Linked DNA regions of Homo sapiens: region 2 is reported to be linked to region 1. Evidence: microRNA targets listed by miRTarBase, many of them from high-throughput screens and not tested one by one. Region 1 holds a microRNA gene; the other region holds the end of a gene's coding sequence.

Region 1 (7,269 bases):
ATCTTGTCTCATGGTAGTGAATAAGTCTCACGAGATCTGATGGTTTTACAAGGGATTTCCACTTTCACTTCTGTCTCATTTTCTCTTGCTGCTGCCATGTAAGAAGTGCCTTTTGCCTTCCACTATGATTCTGATGCCTCCCCAGCCACTTGGAACTGTGACTCCGTTAAAGCTATTTTTCTTCCCAGTCTCAGGTATGTCTTTATCAACAGCGTGAAAATTGACTAATACATTCCTCATCTTTAATGATCAGAAGCATTTGAGAAGGCTTGGCATTAATTCTTCTTTCAATTTTTGGTAGAGTTCATTAACGAAGCCATCATGCCTTAGGGTTTTCTTTGATGGAAAACTTTGTTGATTCAATGTCTTTATGTATTATTGGTCTGTTCAGGTTTACTCTTTCATGATTCCGTCTTGGTAGGATATTTGTGTCTAGAAAGTTACACATTACTTCTAGGTTATACAGTTTGTTGGTATATAATTGTTTCTAACAATCTTAGGATCTTTTGTATTTCTGTGGTATCAATTGTAATGTCTCCACCTTCATTTCTGATTTTTAAGTTTTCTCATTTTTCTTTACATATATATATTTTTATTATACTTTAAGTTCTAGGGTACATGTGCACAACGTGCAGCTTTGTTACATATGTATACATGTGTCATGTTGGTGTGCTGCACCCATTAACTCCTCATTTACATTAGGTATATCTCCTAATGCTATCCCTCCCTGCTCCCTCTATCCCACAACAGGCCCCAATGTGTGATGTTCCCCTTCCTGTGTCCAAGTGTTCTCATTGTTCAATTCCCACCTATGAGTGAGAACATGTGGTGTTTGGTTTTTTGTCCTTGCGATAAGTTTGCTGAGAATGATGGTTTCCAGCTTCATCCATGTCCCTACAAAGGACATGAACTCATCATTTTTTATGGCTGCATAGTATTCCACAGTGTATATGTGCCACATTTTCTTAATCCAGTCTATCATTGTTGGACATTTGGGTTGGTTCCAAGTCTTTGCTGTTGTGAGTAGTGCCACAATAAACATACGTGTGCATGTGTCTTTATAGCAGCATGATTTATAGTCCTTTGAGTATATACCCAGTAATGGGATGGCTGGGTCAAATGGTATTTCTAGTTCTAGATCCCTGAGGAATCGCCACACTGTCTTCCACAATGGTTGAACTAGTTTACAGTCCCACCAACAGTGTAAAAGTGTTCCTATTTCTCCACATCCTCTCCAGCAACTATTGTTTCCTGACTTTTTAATGATCGCCATTCTAACTGGTATGAGATCGTATCTCATTGTGGTTTTGATTTGCATTTCTCTGATGGCCAGTGATGATGAGCATTTTTTCATGTGTCTGTTGGCTGCATAAATGTCTTCTTTTGAGAAGTGTCTGTTCATATCCTTTGCCCACTTTTTGATGGGGTTGTTTGTTTTTTCTTGTAAATTTGAGTTCTTTATAGATTCTGGATATTAGCCCTTTGTCAGATGAGTAGATTGCAAAAATTTTCTCCCATTCTGTAGGTTACCTGTTCGCTCTGTCGGCAATTTCTTTTGCTATGCAGAAGCTCTTTAGTTTTAATAGATCCCATTTGTCAACTTTGGCTTTTGTTGCCATTGCTTTTGGTGTTTTAGACATGAAGTCCTTGCCCATAAGTTTTCTCATTTTTCTTAGTCTAGCTAAAGGTTTGTTGATTTTATTTTTTCAAAATAGCAACTCTTGGTTTCAGCAATCTTTTCTAATGTTTTCAAGTCTATTTTTTTATTTTTGCTCAGATTTTTATTATTTTCTTTCTTTTACTGACTTTGGTCTTAGTGTGCTCATTTTTCTAGTAACTTGAGAAATAATGTTAAGTTGTTAATAATGTTCTTTTTCTGACATAGGTATTTATTGATATAAACTTCTACCTTAAAAGAACTCCTTTTGCTGAATCCCATAAGTTTTGGCATGTTGTGTGTTCACTGTCTCAAGATATTTTTTAATTTCCCTTTTATTTTTCTCTTTGAATCGTTCATTGTTAAAGGTCACGACTTTTAAATTTCCATTTATTTGGAAATTTTATGAAATTTTTAAAATTATTTATAGTATCATACCATTGAGGTCAAAAAAGATATGTAGTATAATTTTAATATTTTTAAATTTGTTAAGGCCTGTTTTGTGGCCTACCCTGCAATCTATCCCAAAGAATGTTTCATGTGCCCTTAAGAACATGTATTCTGCTAATGTTGGATGAAATGTTCTATATCCATAAGTTATATATGTCTCCATTGATATGTATATATCCATTAAAAAATCAGTTAAACTACACTTTAAAGAGACCGAACAGGTATATAGGTAGCTGATATCTATATATCTCTTTGGTCCCCTTAAAGTGTAGTTTCAGTCTGATGTTTTCCTGTAGATTTTCTTTCTGAAGAATAACCATTTTTGGAAGCTGGATAGTGAAGTTTCCTTGTATTTTCTCCATTCATATATATTAATATTTGTTTTATATATTTAGGAGCTGTGATGTTGAGTACATTTGTATTTAGAATTGTTATGTCCTCTTGATAAGTTGACCTCATTATTATATAGTGACCTTCTTTGTCTTTTACAATTTTTGATGTAGTCTACCTTATCTAGTATAGATATTTCTGCTCTTTTGGTTTCCATTTGCATGAAATCTTTTTTCATTCCTTCACTTTCAGTCTATGTGTGTGATTAAAGGTGAGGCGAGAATTTTATAAGTAGTATAGAGTTGGGACTTTTTTGTATCTATTTATCTACTTTTTATTGGAGAATTTAATCCATTTACACTCAAGGTAATTATAGATTTACTACTGTCATTTTTTAATTGTTTTCTAAATGTTGTATAGATCCTTCGTTACTTTTTCTTGATGGCTTCCTTTTGGATTAGGTAATTTTCTCTAGTGATATGCTTCGATTCCTTACCTTTTATTTTTGCGTATTTACTATAGGCTTTTGTTTTGTGGTTAGCATGATGTTTACATAAAATATTGTATATTTAAAACAGGCTAATTTAAATTGATAACTTGACTTTGATTGCATTAAAACTTTTTACCGTCACATCTTATGTTTGACATCACAATTTATATGTTCTTCTATTGTGTATCCCTTAAAAATTATTATAGCCAGCTATTATTTTTAGTAGCTTTGTCTTTTAACATTCATATTAAGAATAAAAGCAGTTTATATACCATTACATTATTATAGTATTTTGAATTTGACTTCTTAGTTTTACCAGTCATTGTTATACTTTCATATTTTTTCATGTTGCTAATTTTCTTTCAGCTTATGGAATTCCCTTTATCATTTCTTGTACAACTGATCTGATGGTGATGAATGTGCTCAGCTTTTCTTTATCTAGAGAGTTACCACAAATGTGCCAATAACATACACTGGGTAAAAGACAGTCTCTTCAATAAACAGTGCTGGGAAAACTGGATATCCATATGCAGAAGAATAAAACTAGACCCCTATCTTTTGCCATGTACAAAAATAAAATCAAAGTTGATTAAAGACTTAAATCTAAAACTTCAAAGTATAAACTACCAGTAAACATTGGCAAAAATCTCCAAGACATTGGTATGGGCAAAAAATTCTTGAACAATGTCCCAGAAGCATAGGCAACCAAAACAGAAATAGACAAATGGGATCACATCAAGTTAAAAAGCTTCTGCACAGCAAAGAATACAATCAACAAAGTGAGTCAACTCACAGAATGGAAGAAAATATTTGCAAACTACCCCTGACAAGGGATTAATAACCGGAATATATAAAGATCTCAAGAAACTCTACAAGAAAAAAATCCAATAATCTGATCAATAAGCAAAGCCTTGAATAGACATTTTTCAAAACACATACAAGTGGCAAACAGGCATATGAAAAGGTGCTGAACATCATTGATCAGAGAAATGCAAATTAAAACTACAATGAGAAATATTTCACCACAGTTAAAATGGCTTATATCCAGAAGACAGGCAATAAATTTTGTCAAGGATGTGGAGAAAAGGGAACCCTTGTACACTATTAGTGGGAATGTAAATTTGCATAACTACTACAGAGAAAAGTCTGGAGGTTCCTCAAGAAACTAAAAATAGAGCTACCATATGATCCAGCAATCCCACTGCTGGGTATATACACAAAAGAAAGGAAATCAGTATATTGAAGAGGTAGCTGCACTCCTATGTTTGTTGCAGCAGTATTTACAATAGCTAAGATTTGGAAGCAACCTAAGTGTCTCTCAACAGATGAATGGATAAAGAAAATGTGGTACATAAACACAACGAGTACTATTCAGTCATAAGAAGAATGAGATCCTGTTATTTTCAACATGGATGGAACCGGAGATCATTGTGTTAAGTGAAATAAGCCAGGCACAGAAAGACAAACATCATATTTTCTCACTTATGTGTGGGAATTAAATATCAAAACAATTGAATTCATGGGCATAGGGAGTAGAAGGATGGTTGCCAGAGGCTGGGAGGCATAGTGGGTGGCTGGGCAAGTGTTGGGGATGGTTAATGGGTAAAAAAATAGTTAGAAAGAATAATACCTACTATTTGATAGCACAACAGGGTGACTATAGTCAGAAATAATTGTACATTTTTAAATAACTAAAAGGATATAATTGAATTGTTCTTAATACAAAGGATAGTAAGCTTGAGGGGATGGATACCCCCATTGTCCGTGATTTAATTATTTTACATTGCATGTCTGCATAAAACATCCATAAATATATACACCTACTATGTACCCACAAAAACAAACTAAAACTAGAAATACAAATGATACATATTAGATGCAGATACAAATTAGATACAGATGATCTAAATAAGATAATCAACAACTTTGGCCTAATTGATATTTATAGACCACTAAACCAGATAACTGCGGAACACACATTTCTTCCAGGTGTACATGCTATGTTAAAGACAGATCATATACCTAAATGATAATGTTATGTCACCAGAAACATTACTAGCTTGGATTGAGATGGAGGCAAAATAAAAAAGTTGTTGGTCTCCCAAAATTTTACAGACAGGAAACAGGCTGATAAAACTACTCAGCTGCAAATATGCACTCTCTTTCCAGAAAAAGGAAGAACACCTTCAAGGGCAGAATCTTGGGCTTAGGCATGGAGTCTCAAACGACAGAGAGTTAATCCTAGGCTTTGAAACATAATGGAATTTTTCTAGTTAGATTTCAAAATTTCTTGAAACTGATTATTCCTTTCTTCCGTTTTCTCCCTTTAGGAACAGTAATTCCTACAATTGTTATCCCATGTCTCTCTAACCACTGTATCTTGGAGGCAGATAACTTGTCTTCTACTTTCGGAAGTCCATAGAAGAGGAATTTTCCCCCAAGATGGATGATACCCAGAGTATTGTTACATATTTGTGTTGTTTTAAGATATCGAGTTTGTCATAATTTGTTACAGTAGTCACAGTAAGGTTATTCAATATGTAATTACATTTAGAAATCAATAATAGTAATATATCCACAAACCACAAAATATTGAAAAATTAAATATGCCTCTAAATAATTTACATGTGAAAGAAAAAACCCAATGGAAATTAGAAAATGTTTCAAACTGAATAATAGACATATAAAAACTTGTGTTATACAGCTAAAGAAATGTTTCAAGGGAAATTTTCAGCTTTAATGCTTGTATTTCAAAACAAGAAAACTCTGAACTCAATGATCTAAGGTTTCACCTTAAGAAGCTAAAAAAGAAAAAGACTAAAGTAAGTGCAAGTTACTTAAAGGAAAGAATAAATAAGTGAGCAGAAAATCAAATATAAAATAAACAATCAAGAAAATTATCAAAGCCAAAATCTGGCTAATAGAAAAGCTGAAGATAATGAAGAAATATTTTGAGATATTGATTAATAAAGGAAAAAAGTACAAGATACCAACATCAGAAATACAACAGGGCTTATCAATGTAGATGTTATCGTTGTGATATAACACAATGTATGCCAATGTATTTAGCAACATAGATAAGATGAACAAATTCCTTGAAAAGTACAACTTACCAAGAAAAAGTAGCACAATATAAAACAGTCTATCAGAATAGCCCTTTATAATTACATGTGTATATGCGTAGATAGATATATACAAAGAATGACAGAGAGACAGACAGACAGGAAGAGATAGAATATGAAGAACCTTTCCACAAAGAAAACCCAAGGCACAGATCACTTCACTTGTAAATGTTATCAGATATTTAAGAAAAAAAAACAGCAATCTGATACATATTATTTTAGAAATTGAGAGGATATAATTCCCATTTATTATAAAGCTTGCATAATCCTACTACAAAACTTGACAAAAATATAAAAATTGTAATATGTACTCATGTCCCTCATGAATAGAAACAAGAAAACTATTACTAAGATACAAGCAAATGAAAGTCAGCAATATATAAACAGATAGATAATGAGGAAAAGTTAGTGGATGTGCCAGGAATGCAAGATTGGTATAGCATTCAAAAATCTATTAATGCAAATCATTATTACAAAGGAATAAAGGAGAAAAACCATATGATTAATTCAAAAGATGCAAAGATTATATATAAAACAATATCGATTTATAATTTTAAAATTATCAGCAAATTGGTAAAGAACATTTAGAGAAAACAGCTGGCATCACATATGAAGGTAAACTATTGAATACTTTCCCACAATAATTGGTAAAAAAACAAGGATGCTCATTCTTACCCCTCCTACTCAATATCACGCTGTAGGTAAAAGCCATTGAAATAAGAAACAGAGACAAAATAAAAGTTAGAAATCTGAAATAAATGAAACCGTCTATTGGCACATAATTTTGTATGTAAAATTCCTGTGTAGTATAAAAACTACTAAGCATACATAAATTAAGTAATGCCACAGGGTACAATATTAATATACAGAAGTCATTGTATTTTTATATATACTGCCAGCAGAAATTGCAGAATAAAATTTTAAAATAAATTGATTTACAATAGGTTCCAAAGAACATGCTTAACAACAAGGGTAACAAATGATGTGCAATACCTATATTCCAAACACTACAAATTTTGATAAATGAGATTTAAAAGCTAAATAGGTGGATTGATTGGAAGTTTCAATATGGTTAAGATATCAATTCTGCAAAAAGTAATCTGCAGATTCAATGCAATCCCCCAAAAAAATTTGAAATAATTGACAAACTTTAACATAAAATGTCATCTGTTATTTTAAATTCAGGGGGTACATATGCAGGTTTGTTACATGGATATATT
Region 2 (7,000 bases), not on the chromosome of region 1:
GACAGGGTCTTTTCCATGCAGTGGTGCCATCACGGCTCACTGCAGCCTTGAACTCCTGGGCTCAAGTGATCTTCCTGCCTCAGCCCCGAGTACCTGGGACTACAGGCACATGTCACCATGCCTGGTTAATTGTTTTAAATTTATTTTTGTGGAAATGGGGTCTTGCTATGTTGCCCAGGCTTGTATCGAACTCCTGGGCTCAAGCAAGCCTCCCACCTCAGCCTTCCAAAGTGTTGGGATTACAGGCGTGAGCCACTGCACCCATCCAGTGGCCATTCTTACATCACATTGGTCCTTTACCCTCTAGCCCTACACCAAAACTGGAAGTACAGAGGCAGTGGACACCCTGGAATGAATACAAGTGTACAGAGAGGTGAGGGGATGTTAGTCCCCGAACTACGGCTGATTGTCCTCTTGTCTAAGCCATCGTTGTTTTCTTTCACTTTGGGGAAAGAAAGAAACAAGGAAATGGATACTCTCTAGAAGAGGAGGAAGGGTGTTCTCTGCCTGTTTGCACATTCAAGTTCAAAGTGGAGGTAGTTTTCAGTAAAAACTCAGTCACAGGTTCTTATTTCTATGAAAAAAAGGGATTTATAAGAACATTCCTGGCAGGGCACAGCGGCTCATGCCTGTAATCCCAGCACTTAGGGAAGCCAAGGCAGGTGGATCACTTGAGGTCAGGAGTTCGAGACCAGCCTGACCAACATGGTGAAACTCCATCTCTATTAAAAATACCAAAATTAGCTGGGCGTTGTGGTGCATGCCTATAATCCCAGCTACTCCGGAAGCTGAGGCAGGAGAATTGCTTGAACCCGAAAGGCAGAAGTTGCAGTGAGCCAAGATCACACCACTGTACTCCAGCCTGCGTGACAGAACAAGACTCCAACTCAAAAAAAAAAAAAAATTCTCACTCTCGTTTGGCTATATGAGTGGGAGTTGTGTTGACATAGGGGACTGCCTTCTCGTTAATAATCCCTGGGCTCTCTGTTGCATGGTCCAGACAGGAAATCACATGACGATGAGTGTCCTGAGGAAAATCTTCGTGAAAGATCTTGACATGTGTCCCCTATACAAACTCCAGAAGACAGAATGCGGCAGCCACACGAAAGAGGAAACCAAGACTGCCTGCTTGGTAAGAACATCATGGAGTAGAAGCTAAGTGTTGAGAGTAAGCCTTGGTCACATCCAGGGGAGCCTCAGGACTCCCCTTCCCTAGATGGGGAGCTCTGTGAGGGCAGGGCTTGGGATGAGTGGCTGTCTCTGGAGTGAATAGCACTTGGCAGACAGTATGCGCTCAATAAAAATCTGCTGAATGAACTAACCAGTCACGATTTTCAGTGTAACATGATGAAGCTTGTCTAAGTCACAGGTGCTTTTTAACTAGCTAAAAATTTGAAAGTCTGAGTCCAAACCACAGAGGCCGATATGCTTTGAGCAGGTCTACAGTGTGGGGCTGCTGTATTCAGCTTCTAGGGAACCTAGACTCCCCTCTGATGCTATCAGTTACTGAGTTTTTCTTCTCTGAGAAGCCCTGCCCTCCACCCAGATGAGGGCTGTACGGATGTGGCTGTCCTACTGCCTCAAAAAAAAATGTGTAGAAGTCACACACACCTGGTTCAGGCCCCTTCATATCCAAATCTGGAGAAAGTGTGGCTTACTAGGGTCACACAGTCAATAAAAGTTACAGCAAAGACAAGGACCTAGGTCTACCAGATATCCAGACAGTGTTTATCTCCTCTGCTCTAGAATTGCTTTTCTATGAGGCTTAACACACACTCTCCTCTAAATAACCTTCAGGACACCTGATGGGGAATTTTTTTTCCCCATAGGATCCAGAAAGGCAGGATTTTTAGAGCAAGGGGAAAAAATACATATATACAGACAATTTTTTTTAAAAGTCATTTTATTGCAAAACATGAAGGACTGCCTCTCATTAAGAAATATGTTTGCCCTTCCAAAGTTGGTGTAACATCTATTGAGTGCCTATTTTGTACTGGGTCCTCTGCCAGGTGGGGGATCTTAACAATTTCTTAAATTAGATAATGTGTTAAAATACAGTGAAGATATAGCTTTTTAACAAAATTCTGCCGTCAACCATTCCGTCAAACAAGTATCATACTTCCTCAGATCTAAGATGCTGCCAATTATAGAATGCACCATCATTTTTTGTAATCCCAAGAAAGAAAAAAATGCTGCCCGTTAAACTCTGACATCAACTGATTAAAAGACACACCCTAATTTCAAAGATGTTGATTTCTAACTGTATCTTAGACTCAATGGAATATTCTAAGCTATTTCTACTCTAACTGACCATCTTTTAAAATCTAACTGCAAAGTTCAGGTTGGTTTTTAACTGTGACACACCTCTAAACATGCCTTCATTTTTGAACAGAATTATGCTTGCACACCATTTAATGGTGACCCGTCCCCATAGAATCCTCTGTCTTGGAAATATGTTCTCATGTCCAGAGGTCTTCAAAGCCACAATTCCCACATGTAGAATCAACCACCAGGTTCAGAATCTGCCTATGGGTTTCCCTGAAACCCAACAAAAGCAGAATCACTCTGCACTCACCCATCCTGCCTTTATTCTACCACTGTCAGGGCTTTTGCTGAATGTCAAGGGAAAAGATCACAAAATGAAAGACCCCACTCTGGGCTGTGGCCGCTCCCTTGGGAGATGAGGTAGGGTAGCTCCAGAGGGGCACCTGGAGCTGTTCGCCTCTGCCTCTTGTGCTTCAGAAGTCGCAGCCCCTACAGGATTATGGGGAAGAGAAAAAGCGTATATGCTGTGCCCAGGTGGGTGGAACAGTGACCTGCAAAACCACGCCATAGCTGAGGACATCTACCAATCACTCATCCAATCATTTGTCCTAAATCACATTCTTTTTCTTGCTCTGGCTATACCACTACAGTTAAGACAAACTGCGAATCGGACTGATGAAAGGGGGAACCACGTCATTCTTGGCCAGGGAGCCCCCATGACCTAGGCAGACATAGTGAGGTGCACACAAGGGCCTCTTCACCAGTCAATTGAAAAGTCAGGAGTGCCACACTAAAGCACCCCCTTCCATCCAAGGAGAGGCACAGAATGAAGTCCTCAAGGCCTTCCTCACATGTCTGGCCTTGGCCTGCTGAGAGATCACCAGGGAATCACGGCAGCTTTGCAGCATGGCCTCCCCGCTGGCCTGCCCACGGAGTTGCTCCCATGTTTTCCCACTGGTCTTCATCTCTGTTCTGGTGTGGCTTCCTTGGAAAAGAGGAGCTTTATTGAAAGAGAATACCCCACTGGGCATGGTAGTTCATGCCTAATCCCAGCACTTTGAGAGGGCGAGGCGGGCAGATCACTTGAAGTTAGATTAAGACCAGCCTGGCCAACATCGTGAAACCCCATCTCTACTAAAAATACAGAAATTAGGCCGGGTGCAGTGGCTCACGCCTGTAATCCCAACACTTGGGGAGGCCGAGGCGGGTGGATCATGAGGTCAGGAGTTCGAGACCAGCCTGGCCAACATGGTGAAACCCCATCTCTACTAAAAATAAAAATTAGCCAGGTGTGGTGGTGGGCGCCTGTAATCCCAGCTACTGGGGAGGCTGAGGTAGGAGAATCGCTTGAACCCAGGAGGAGGAGGTTGCAGCGAGCCGAGATCATGCCACTGCACTCCAGCATGGGGGACAGAGCAAGACTCCATCTCAAAAAAAAAAAAAAAAATTAGCTGGGCATGGTGGCGCATAGCTGTAGCCCCAGCTACTCGAGAGGCTGAGGTGGGAGAATTGCTTGAATCCCAGAGGTGGAGGTTGCAGTGAGCCAAGATTGCACCACTGCACTCCAGCCTTGGGGACAGAGAAAGAAAGAGAGAAAGAGAGACAGAGAGAGTGACCAAGACAGACCACACACCCAGGTCTCGGATGGTAAGGGGCTGAAGCGGCTGCTCTTCTGCCTTTCTGCTGCTCGTGGTTCAGTCTGTTCAGATTGTTTCCTGTTGTTAATTGCGGCCCCATTCCATGTCTCAGTCCAAACTGCGAGAGCAACATGTCATTGCCTGGGCCTTCCAGCCAGGCAGGCCACACAGGTCAGAAGTGGCTGGCTAGCCTGGGGATGACCACCCCCTTCTCGGACCAAGATGGGCCATGGGAGGGGCAGGAATTCCTTTGAGAGGAGACCTAGGGGTGTGGGGTCTGGGCAGGTAAGGTAAGTGATACCTACTAGTTGCCTTGTTGCTTTTCCCATTTTCCCCAACTTTTCAGAAAAATGCTGGCCTTTATAGCGACATCAGGATGATGGTAGCTAATATTCTATTGAGTGTTTGCTGTGTGCCAGGCACTGTGCTGTGCTCAGCACGTGTTACAGGCATTAACTGTGTTCCCACCTTGGCTCAGAGAGGATTTGGTCACTTGCCAGGGTCCCATATCTAGCTAATGATGCCAAGCTTCTACTCCGTCACTTTAAGTTAGATAAAGTGTATGTGGCAGAATTCCCAAGTCCCAGAGGACTGCTCCATTGGGAGTAGGGAAGACCCAGAGCACGGCCAGCCAGGCTGGTAAGCAGTTGCCAGGTGGCAGGAAGTGGCTTACACTAAGGGTTGAAGCAAGGCAGAGAAGGGAAAATGTGAGCATTTCAGGACAAAACAGAAACAAACACCAACATTTCAGGAATGAGAAGCCAGAAGAGAGGGAAGGTTTGGCCAAAGGACTGGAAAGGGGCAAGAAAATGAAATATGAACCAGGAAGCTATAGGCAATCAGCAGAAGTCCACAGCTAATTTGCATAATAAAAGGAAAAGTCATCTTGTTGGAATTTGTGGTGGTGGCTGCCTAGATTTGAAATTGTATCCTATAATTTGCCCCATTTCCAGTGAGAACCAGCGTAAAACATTTCTAGAACAAACAGTATATTGCACAAGGATAGATTTACAACAAAAACTAGTTTTTCTAAGACTTGAAGCCTTCTGTCTTTTATCACAGGGGGACCCAGGAAGCCCAATGATGTGCCAGCTACAGCAGTTCGATCTGTGGGTTCTGAGAGGAGTCCTGAACTTCGGTGGTGAGACGTGCCCTGGCCTGTTTCTGTACACCAAGGTGGAAGACTACAGCAAATGGATCACATCCAAGGCTGAGAGGGCCGGCCCTCCCCTGTCCTCACTCCACCACTGGGAAAAGTTGATTTCTTTCTCCCACCATGGACCAAATGCCACCATGACACAGAAGACATATTCTGATTCTGAACTGGGCCATGTTGGATCATACTTGCAGGGACAAAGAAGGACCATCACGCATTCACGACTAGGAAACAGCTCTAGAGATAGTCTAGATGTTAGGGAGAAGGATGTAAAGGAATCAGGCAGGTCTCCTGAGGCGTCTGTACAACCCTTATACTATGACTATTACGGTGGGGAGGTGGGGGAAGGTAGGATTTTTGCAGGTCAGAACAGGTTGTATCAGCCCGAAGAAATCATCTTGGTTTCCTTCGTGCTTGTTTTCTTTTGCAGCAGTATCTAGTCCAGGAGCTACCCCACCAAACTGAAGAGTAAACTGAGAATGCTGAGTGCCAGGCATTCACCATGCTGTTTTGATGTCTGTTTTTGATAGTTGCACACTGGGGCTGCCACGGATAAGCCCATGGCATACACTGGGCTGGCTCTCCCTCCTCTATCCCTCTCCCAGGTGTGGGAAGGTCACTTTCACTATGCTTGTGAACTAAATGCTGGCTAACAAGTGTCAAACCATTAGAGTGCCCTGTGGTTCTTTCAGTGGTAACAGTTCCAGGGGCCAGGCTGTGAAAACACTCCCCATGGGCAGATGTGGCCCAGGAGATGATACGCAGCCTGGGTGGGGGGTTGGGAACACCAGGCAGACAGGGAACAGTGAGAGGAGCCCGTGACTAGAAAGGAGCTGATTACTTTTATAGGTCATGTAGTGGTCTGTAAGCCGTGGCCTGCCTCTGGCTACTTCCCAGCAAGGTAATCTGCCTGCAACTGCTCATTGGTTATTTTCATTCGATTCCAAGCCTTACGATGGCCTTTTAAGGACATCTGCAAAAAAAAAAAAGAAAAAAAGAAAAAAAATGATAAAGGAGATGGGGGAGAAAGTCACTTGGGGAAAACTGATTGTGGCTACTGAGAATGCAGCCCTCATCCAGCCCCGTGATGGTGCAGGCAACCCTGTGTGGGGCAGCGTGTCCTCCATGCATGCTGCTGTGTAGGGGCCACAAAGGGGCAGCACCCACCGGAAGATTTTTCTATAGAGCATGTTTCTTCTGTTCAGTAAAGTGAGAAGTTGCATGTTCCTGCCACGATTCTGCTACTTCTCAGCTTCGGATCTGAGGGGCCCAAATTTGGATCCTAATTTACTCTCTGCTGCAAAATGGCCGCAGGAGAGGCAGGACAAAGTAACACAGGAAATGGGAGCCAGGGTCTAGATGTGAAAACGCCAAGGTACCAGTTTTCCAAGTGACCTGACTGGCTTTCTAAGCTACTCTGATGATGTCCTGCATGACCTCAGTTTGCAACCTGGCCACGGCAGCCTAGGTGCTTGTCTTTCTTCTGACACCAGCATATGGTTTCCCATTGCCCATTTATCTCCCGCAGCTCACAGGAGCAAGGGTGCTTCCTGTCACATGGTACCATATTCAAAGTCTGCGGGATTCGTTCAAAAGCAGAAAGACCCATGGCGACTGTGTACATGCATGGAATGAGGTCCTGAGTGATATTAAAAAATCCATCACTATCTCATTTAAAAAAAAAATGGACTTCTCCATGTATAAAGTAGCAATCACTAAATTACCAGTGCAGAGGGATTCAGAAACTTCTAGAATTCATTAAGATAACAAGCAACTAAAAACACACTATTACTACAGAGTTTCTCCCTGAAAATGGAAAAGACTCTGCCCCTAACAATGCAAAAGGGGGAACTTTCAAAAAAAACAAATCATCCTTCGTCTTGGTTTAATAGTTAAAGCAACTGCTGAGGTTTCTCCCAGAAATTACATATCCAAACATCTG

What was found. Region 1 holds the annotated microRNA hsa-miR-3144-5p (AGGGGACCAAAGAGAUAUAUAG, at 2,348-2,369, opposite strand). A microRNA usually pairs through its seed, bases 2 to 8, with sites in the 3' UTR of a target mRNA and lowers its output. Matches are read on the target gene's strand: a 7mer-m8 pairs with bases 2 to 8, a 7mer-A1 pairs with bases 2 to 7 and ends in A, and an 8mer does both.
Region 2: the mRNA of CFAP263 is a reported target of hsa-miR-3144-5p. Seed matches in the 3' UTR shown: 7mer-m8 at 4,965-4,971 and 7mer-A1 at 3,837-3,843.

What each region holds. Positions count from the first base shown.
Region 1 is chr6:120,010,291-120,017,559 of GRCh38, reverse strand. MIR3144 (microRNA 3144) reads right to left here and starts at 2,381; the gene lies at 2,303-2,381.
Region 2 is chr16:58,278,722-58,285,721 of GRCh38, reverse strand. It overlaps CFAP263 (cilia and flagella associated protein 263), which reads right to left. Exons shown (of 9, transcript NM_014157.4): 9 at 1,886-6,031. The coding sequence ends at 5,945. PRSS54 (serine protease 54) reads left to right here. Exons shown (of 7, transcript NM_001305173.2): 6 at 1,001-1,132; 7 at 4,965-5,725. The coding sequence ends at 5,498. Among named protein-coding and RNA genes, the nearest start is that of PRSS54, 13 kb to the left of the region's middle. RefSeq lists a silencer at 4,423-4,717.